Regions from separate parts of the Homo sapiens genome. Here region 1 is linked to region 2. Evidence: fine-mapped expression QTL. A gene starts in region 2. The other region holds a variant in brackets. All regions are shown on one strand. Distances are between the middles of the regions.

Evidence for each region.
Region 1: its variant is fine-mapped to the expression of MOK in nasal epithelium (TOPMed, PIP 0.94).

What each region holds. Positions count from the first base shown.
Region 1 is chr14:102,234,032-102,238,413 of GRCh38, reverse strand. All of the region lies in intron 7 of MOK (MOK protein kinase), which reads left to right. Among named protein-coding and RNA genes, the nearest start is that of MOK, 69 kb to the left of the region's middle. The variant G/A (reference allele first, on the strand shown) is at 1,704.
Region 2 is chr14:102,302,881-102,307,262 of GRCh38, reverse strand. MOK (MOK protein kinase) reads left to right here and starts at 2,099. Exons shown (of 12, transcript NM_014226.3): 1 at 2,099-2,301. The coding sequence starts at 2,295. RefSeq lists enhancers at 1,880-1,929, 1,696-2,218.

The DNA.
Region 1 (4,382 bases), 69 kb after region 2:
GGTTAGTGATAGGGTCACTTTGGCAGTAAGGAATCTCCTCTCTTGCCAGATGGTGGCGTGGGAATGAAGAATGTGATATACATCTTTGGAGTCTGTGTAAGTGTTGACTCGTTTGCCTTTGGAAAGGGTTAGGGCTCTGGTGAGAGCTATGAATTCTGCTTTTTGAGAGGAGGTTCCTGGAGGTAGGGGCTTAGCTTCAATTACTCGGTCAAGGGAAACAACTGCATACCCAGCAATTTTGGGGGAGCCAGTGGGCCCAGAAGGGGGGCCATCTATAAATAGCTGGTCATCGGGGTTGGTGAGAGGCTCGGAGGAAATGTTAGGAAAGTGTGGCTGCAGGTGATCTAGGACGTCAGTGCAAGAATGAGTAGGAAGGGAAGAAGATACAGGGAGTAAGGATGCTGGGTTGAAGGGAGCACTTTTGGCAAGACCGAATTCAGGATTTTTGATAGAGGGCATGGAGTAATTGAATCCGGAAAGGAGGGAGCCTCATGCTCGGGAGGAGAGGAGATCCTGTAGATTATGAGGACTGTAGGTGGTGGTATTTTGACTCAATGTTAGTTTCCTGCTTACAGCTAAAGTGGCCGCTGCTGCTAGCATTCTAAGACAGGTTGGCCATCCTCTGACTGTGTTGTCTAACTGTTTAGAGAGGTAGGCTACAGGGGCAAAGGAAGGAGGGTCTCCTTTCTGTTGCCCTAAGACACCGAGGGCTATTCCTCATCTTTTGGCAGTATAGAGTGTGAGAGGTTGGGAGATACCAGGTAAGGACAGAGCTGGTGCAGTGACAAGAGCGGTTTGAAGTTTGCAGAAGTTGGGGAGTATGTTACGTGAGGGATTTAGAGGCTCACTGAGAGGGCCTTTGGCTGCTTCATAGAGTGGGTGAGCTAGGAGGGCAAAGTTGGGAATCCATATTCTAAAAAAGCCTGCTAGTTCTAGGAAGGAAAGAACTTCGCTTTTGGAGGAGGGCGAGGGCAGATTATCTATTAGTGCTGCTAGGGCAGGGGTCATAGCCCGGGTCCCAGGGGAAAGTTGAACTCCTAGGTAAGTTACTATGGAGGTGGAAAGTTGAGCTTCGGAGGGGGAGACTCTATACCCTTTGATGGAGAGAAAGTTTTAAGAGAGTAACTGTGTGAGTTTGAGAGTCTTCTAGAGAGGGGCTGCAAAGGAGAAGATTGTCCACGTATTGAAGGAGACGGCTAGGGAAAAGGTTTAAGGAAGTGAGATCTTGAGCTAAAGCTTGTCCAAAGAAGTGAGGGTTATCTCTGAAGCCTTGAGGGAGGACAGTCCAGGTTAGTTGTTGTGACTGGAGGGTGTCAAGGTCGGTCCAGGTGAAAGCAAAGAGGTTTTGGGAATCAGGGTGCAGGGGAATAGTAAAAAAAGTCATCTTTTAGGTCAATAGCAGTGTAGCAGGTGGTGTTGGAGGGAATGAGACAGAGAAGTGTAGAGGGGTTAGGGACTATGGGATGAATAGGAAAGACAGCCTGACTGATGGCTCGGAGGTCTTGCAGGAGTCGGTATGAGCCGTCTGATTTTTTAACCAGGAGGATGGTGGTGTTATATGAAGAACGTGTTGGCCTAAGAAGACGGCGTGAACAGAGCTTGTTTGTGATGGGCTGTAAGCCTTTTTGGTGGGTTAGGGAGATAGGGTTTTTGGGGATGCTGGGAAATTTAGAGAGGTCTTTTAACTGGATTTTGATGGGGTC[G/A]TGGTGAGTAGCTAGGGAAGGGGTGGTGGTGTCCCACCCTGTTGGGTTTACAAAAGAGGTGGGAAGTGGGTACTGGGGAGAGGGGTCAGGGGCTGGACTCGCATAGAGGAGTAGGAGGGACTCCGGTTGAGGGAGGGAGAAAAAGGTGATAGAAGCTTTGAATTTGGCCAAAATTTGAATTTGAATTTGGCTTTGAATTTGGCCTAGGATGGGGGTAGGGCAACGAGGCATGATAAGGAAAGAGTGTGGGAAAACAGTATCAAACAGAGAGCAAGTAAGGGGTCTGGTGGCGCGTGGACGCAAGATGAGTCCATCAGCCCCCACAACTGAGACCTGAGAGGGATGAGTGGGTCCTGAAAATTCAGGCAAAGCTGAGTAGGTGGCCCCGCTATCAATTTAAAAAGAGATCGGCTTACCTGCTACTCGCAGAGTTACCCTGGGCTCCAATGCAGTGATGGCAGATGGGGCCGGGGGCCCTGGGCCCGGTCAGTCCTCAGCGGCTAGGCTGAGGAGCTGCGGGAATGCAAGCGGTTCTTCACTTTTTGTCTTGTTAAAGGGGTGGTGGCTCTGAGGAGCAGGCTTGTCTGTCTGTTGAGAGGACAGTCGGACTTCCAGTGGCCTGTCTGCTGGCACACTGGACAAGGACTCTTTGGCACTCAAGGGTTAGGATACACCCATGCCCAGTGGCCTTCTTTGCCACACTTAAAACAAGGCCCGGAGGGTTGCTGCTATCGGGTCTTTTGTGCCCTTGGGTGATACGGCTGGGTTGATGGACAGCCGCTGCTAGAAGCTGGTATTTAGCACGATCTCTTTGGGCTTTATCTAATTTATTTTGCTCATCCCTGTTATTAAAGACTTTGAAAGCCAAGTTAAGGAGGTCTCGTTGTGGGGTCTGAGGGGCATCTTCAGCCTTTTTAAGTTTGCGCCAGATGTCGGGGGCAGATTGGGAAATAAAATGGATGTAAAGAACAATAGTTCCTTCCCGGGAGGCGGGATCGACACGCGTGTATTTTTGGAGAGTCTCTGTAAGGCGAGAAAGGAATTGGGCAGGGTTTTCATTGGCCTTTTGGGAGATTCCTTTGAGTTTTTCGAAATTTACAGCCTTATGGGCAGTTTTGTTAAGGCCTGCAGTGAGGCAAGTAATCATATGATTACAGGAGGTCTGGCAGGGGCCTGTGGGTTGATACGCCCAGGTACGCTCTTCTCAGGGAACTGCAGCGGCCCCTACTGGCCTAGTAGGATCTTGCCGATGGAGGTCATCGGCATGGGCCTGGGCTGCAAGCCACACTCTTTCCTTTTCTTCCGGAAGGAGGGTAGAAGACAAAATAATATAGAGATCATGCCAAGTAAGTTCATAAGACTGGGTGAGATATTTAAATTATTTGATGTAAGTGTCGGGATCGGAGAAGAACCTGGACGTTTCTCAATTTGGGAAACATTAGAGAGGGAAAATGGGACGTGGACACGGACCATCCCTTCGGCCCATGCCACTTCCCGGAGAAGAAGCAAGGGAGCAGGCTGCTGGGCGTGTTGGGCTCGAGAACGAGTAAGGGGTGGAGATGGGGAGGACTCAGAGTCGGAGGTGGGGTGGTTGGAGAGAAGGGGAGAGAGAGGTAGAGCCGGAGCGGAGGCATACGGTGGGGGGTCATGCTGTTCCGGTGGAGGATTAGGATGTTGTCGAGGAGGGGAGAAATCGGTGGGATCAAAGAAGGAGAAGTCGTCCGCTGGGGCTATTGGGATGAGGGGAGCAGGAGGTGAGTCGGGTTTGGAGCAGGCGAGGAGAATTTGAAAAGTACAGCAGGACTGGCAGAGGGAGGGACGACTACAGAGAGTAAAGAAAGCCTGAACATGAGGAATCTCAGACCACTTCCCACTGCGGTGGCAAAAGTTGTCTAAGTCTCTGAGCATGTCGGAATCGAAAGTGCCATTTTCAGGCCATTGGGAGCCATGGTCTGATTTGTATTGAGGCCATGTGGTGTTACAGTAAAAGATAAGCCTTTTAGGGCAGATTTCTGAACGGAGGCCAAGAGTATACAGATTGTGTAGGAGGCACCCAAGGGGGGTAGTTTTAGGAGGAATAGACTGAGAGGCTCCCATAGTGAATGGAAGGGAGGGGGGTAGAGGAAGAAGAGACTGCCGGTGACGTCCCCTTTCCCGCGGAACTTGTCAGGAATAGAGGAGGTAACCACCGTGTCAGGCGTCCCTGAAACGGAGGAACCAGAGGCCTGGAGGCTGGAGGAAGCCCTTGGCCCAGCGCTGGGTCTTTCGGAAATGGGAGATGGACGGTCAAGAGTTCAGGGAATGGCAACAGTCTCTTTTTACTCACCCTGGCGGAGGCTTTGATGGTGGATGAAGTCACCAGCAATGGGAGAGTCTAGGAGATTGTCTGGGTCTTTGGCAGGTTCGGGGAAGGGGAGATTGGCCAGGAGAGGGGTGATAGGGGAGGGAGGGAGAGAGAGAGAAAAAGAGAGAGAGAGAGAGATTGATAGTGAGCGAGTCCTGGCCAGAGTCTATCCCCCTTCCCGGGTTTCGGCACCAGAATGTTAGGTCATCCGAGAGAAAGGAAAAATTGACCTAAAGTCAGGCAAGCAAGTTTTTATTAACCTGCCACCGGCCGCTTAACAGTCAGAGGAAGCAGCCCCAAGCTTACAGATTGAGGGGTTTATATTGGGGAAGGGA
Region 2 (4,382 bases):
GTCTCGAATTCCTGACCTCAGTTGGTCCATCCTCCTCGGCCTCCCAAAGTGCTGGGATTATAGGTGTGAGCCACCACGCCTGGCTTGTTTTGTATTTTATTTATGTATTTGCTTTTTTAGACGGAGTCTCACTCTGTCGCCCAGGCTGGAGTGCAGTGGCGCAATCTCGGCTCACTGCAACCTCCGCCTCCCGGGTTCAAGCAATTCTCTGCCTCAGCCTCCCGAGTAGCTGGGATTACAGGTGCCTGCCACCACACCCGGCTCATTTTTCTATTTTCAGTAGAGATGGGGTTTCACCATCTTGGCCAGGCTAGTCTTGAACTCCTGACCTGGGGATCCACCCGCCTTGGCCTCCCAAAGTGCTGGGATTACAGGCATCAGCCACTGTGCCCAGCCGTTTTGTATTTTTTTAGTAGAGACGGGGTTTCCCCCATGTTGGCCAGGCTGGTCTCGAACTCCTGGACTCAAGTGATCTGCCTGCCTCGGCCGCCCAACGTGCTGGGATTGCAGGTGTGAGCCACCGCGACCGGCCGCTTTCTCTTTCTTTCGAGACAAGGTCTTGCTTTGTCACCCAGGCTAGAGTGCAGTGGTGCTATCATAGCTCACTGAGCCTAGAACTCCTGGTCTCAAGATACCTCCGCCTTATTCTCCTGAATAGCTGGGTTTACAGGCATGTGCCACCGTGCCCGGCTTTTTTTTTTTTTTTTTTTTTTTTTTGAGTCTCTTGCTCTGTCGCCCAGGCTGCAGTGCAGGTGGTGCAATCTCGGCTCACTGCAAGCTCCGCCTCCAGGGTTCACGCCATTCTCCTGCCTCAGCCCCCGGAGTAGCTGGAACTATAGCGCCCGCCACTACGCCCGGCTAATTTTTTTTGTATTTTTAGTAGAGATGGGGTTTCACCGTGTTAGCCAGGATGGTCTCGATTTCCTGACCTCGTGATCTGCCCGCCTTGGCCTCCCAAAGTGCTGGGATTACAGGCGTGAGCCACCACGCCCGGAGTTTTTTTTTTTTTTTTTTTAAGAGGGAAGTGGGGTTTCTCTATGTTGCCCAGGCTGGTCTTGAATTTCTGGCCTCAAGCGATCCTCTTGCCTCGGCCTTCCAAAGTGCTGGGATTACAGGTGTGAGCCACCACACCTGGCCAATTCAGTCTTAAACCAATTTTCTGAGGCTTCGTTTTGGCAAGGCTACTTATCTGTTTTAAAAATAAACGATGTATTTTAGTAAAAGAAAAAAAATGGAGGAAAAAACAGGGTTTTGATCTCATGGAATAATTATGAGGCTAATCTAATGAGCTTCATAAAATACTATACCCATACATAGTATGCTTGTTATTTTATTGTTTTGTCAGGGTCCAGAGAACTAGGCCACTGTGTTGCTTAGGCACCGTGTCTGCACATAGTTCATTCCGGTGTACATTCATTCATCTTTACACTAGAATGTTAGTTTCAAGAACTCAGTCACCTCGTCTACACTGTCCTTTAATCCCCAATACCTGCGACAGTTCCTGGGGCAAAAACAAATGCTTGTTGAATTAAAAAGAAAAACTGGGCCGGGCGTGGTGGCTCACGCCTGTAATCCCAGCACTTCGGGAGGCCGAGGCAGGCGGATCACCTGAGGTCAGGAGTTCGAGACCAGCCTAACATGGTGAAACCCCGTCTCTACTAAAAATACAAAAACATTAGCCGGGTGTAGTGGTGGGTGCCTGTAATCCCAGCTACTTGGGAGGCTGAGGCAGGAGAATCGCTTGAAGCCGGGAGGCGGAGGTTGCAGTGAGCCGAGATCACGCCATTGCACCCCAACCTGGGTAACAGAGCGACACTCTGTCTCAAAAAAAAAAAAAAATTCCTGTAGAAGCTCCCAAGCCCAATTAAAGCTCAAGGCTATCGTCCACGTAGTGGGTTCCAAATCGCTAAGTTCCCAGGCCAGCAGGGAGAGCGAGCCGAGCGAAGGTCGCCTGTGTCAAAGGCGGGGATTTGCACAGTATTTACATGGAAGCGGAGGAAAGGCTGCTTAGCAACCGGGCTGAGGGGACGGGCTGCACTGCGCACGCGTACATGGGCGGGGCATCTTGCGCATGCGCAGGCGACAGCTCATGGCGTTCAGGGCCTGACGGTTGCTAGGGTGACAGGGACACAACATGGCGGCGGGATCTCTAACGCTCTCCTTCGAGGGACCACCACGGAGATCCTAGTGCGGGACCCCGCCTCAGGGAAGTGGAAAGCAGGGGGACAACCTTCCTGCTTCTTTCTTTTCCGTCCAGTGTCGGCAAGGGGTTGTCACCGGCTTCCGCATCCAAGATGAAGAGTGAGTGGGGCCGGGGAAAGGGGCAGGGACTGGAGAGCGAGTGGCGGGGGAGGGAGGGACTGGGGGAGCTTGAGGAGCTTGAGGGGCCTGTGGGGCCGGGCGTCGTCGCCTTCTGCCGTGGCTCGACAGGCCCGGGAGGCTCCGCATGTGGGCCCCGAATCCCCCTCGGCTGTGAGAAGCCGGTGCCCCTGGGGGAAGCTTGAGGGGTTGGGGCTAGGTTGGGAACTTTGGGGTCTCGGAGAGCCGACTCGAGTTCCCGCTCAGGCATATTTTGGTGCAGGTGCGTGGTTCTTACATTGGAGTTTAGGGAGTTGACTGTGATTCATTTTATTTTATTTTAAATGCTGGCTTGAACCTGACACTCTTTTCCTGAACATTCGGCAGAAAACGGGGGAGCGCTTACAGCGTGGCTCCCTGCCTTTTCATGATACTGGTTTAGTGACCAATTGAGAGGAAAGCTGGGCTGTGTGCTTTATTTTATTTTTTGGGTCAAGCAGTAGTGTTTTATAGGAACCACTTTTTAATAGTAGTTTTGAAGCAACCTTTTAGTTAAAAGCTGTTACTTCAAAGTTGGGAAATGAGGTAGTCATTCTAGAAAATGTAACGGGTAAAAAATTTTCTTTAGTGGGATTTGTGGATTATTGACAATCCAAGTGCAACCAGCTAGAATGATGTTTTTAAAATTATTATTACTGTACAGATATAATTGTTTATGGTTGTGAACCAGAGGTGCAGTAAAAATTCAGACCTTTGCTGTGAAAATATTATGTTAGGAGTAGTTATAATGTTAAATTTGCATTGTATCCTAATTGTCAATGGTGTACATTGCATAACATTTAAAATAATTAATCTCATTCACCCTTTACAAGGCATTTTTATTTTTATTTTATTTTGTTGGATATTGTTTAATGTTTACCTTTTTCATTAATGCACTACAAAGCTGTAGTTAGAATCCAAGGTCTACAAAAGACTTTACACTTTTACTTACAGTGCAGACTATGATACTGCACATATTTTGTACTATATTCATTTTTTTCTTCCCATCTGTTTGTTTTGAAAATTTTCAGATGTACAGGAAAGTTGCAAGAGCAGTACATTGAATATTTATAAACCCGTCCTTCACTTAGCTGCACCATTTTGCCTTATTTTTGTGTGCTCGCTTTCGCTCTGGTGTTTTCTCTCTCCCATTTATGTATTTATTTTCACTGGACCTTTCAAGAGTTAGTTGTAGACTACTAATAATTCACCACTTCTTTCAGCAGTTATCTGCCAAGAACAAGGACATTCTCCTACATCATCACAGTACAAATAACACATTTAGAAAATTTAACAATGATACAATACTCTGATACACAGTCCATATTTCAGTTTTTCCATTTATCCCAATAACATGTGTTATAGTTGTTTATATTTTTTCTATCCAATCAAGAATCACCAATTGTATTCTGTTGTCATATCTCTTTGGTCTCTTTTAATATGGTGTCCCTGCCTTTTGTGTCTTTCATGACAATGATATTTTCATTTTTATTTGGCTGTCCTCTGTAGGCCAAATGACATTTTTAAAGAATCCAGCCCAGTGTTTTGCAGAATATCGCTCAATTTGGATTTGTCTGATTTTCGCCTCATGATTAGCTTCAGCTTAAATGTTTTTACCAGGAATATGTGAGAGGCAACGTTGTGTCTCTGTCAGTGTGGCCCTTCCAGAGTGCCTGATGTCAGTTCGTTGCAGTTTTGCTGAAGTTAGATTTGATCATTTGGTTTATTTATCTACCTTCTTTTTCTCTTAGACTCTTTTTTTTTTTGGACAGGGTCTCTCTGTGTCACCCTGGCTGGAGTGCAGTGGTGCAATCTTGGCTCACTGCAACCTCTGCCTCCCGGGTTCAAGTGATTCTCCTACCTCAGCCTCCCAAGTAGCTGAGATTACAGGTGTGCACCACCACGCCCAGCTAACTTGTATTTTTTGGTAGAGACGGGGTTTCAACATGTTGGCCAGGCTGGTCTCAAACTCCTGACGTCAAGCGATCCACCCGCCTCAGCCTCCCAAAGTGTTGGAATTACAGACGCGAGCCACTGTGCCTGGC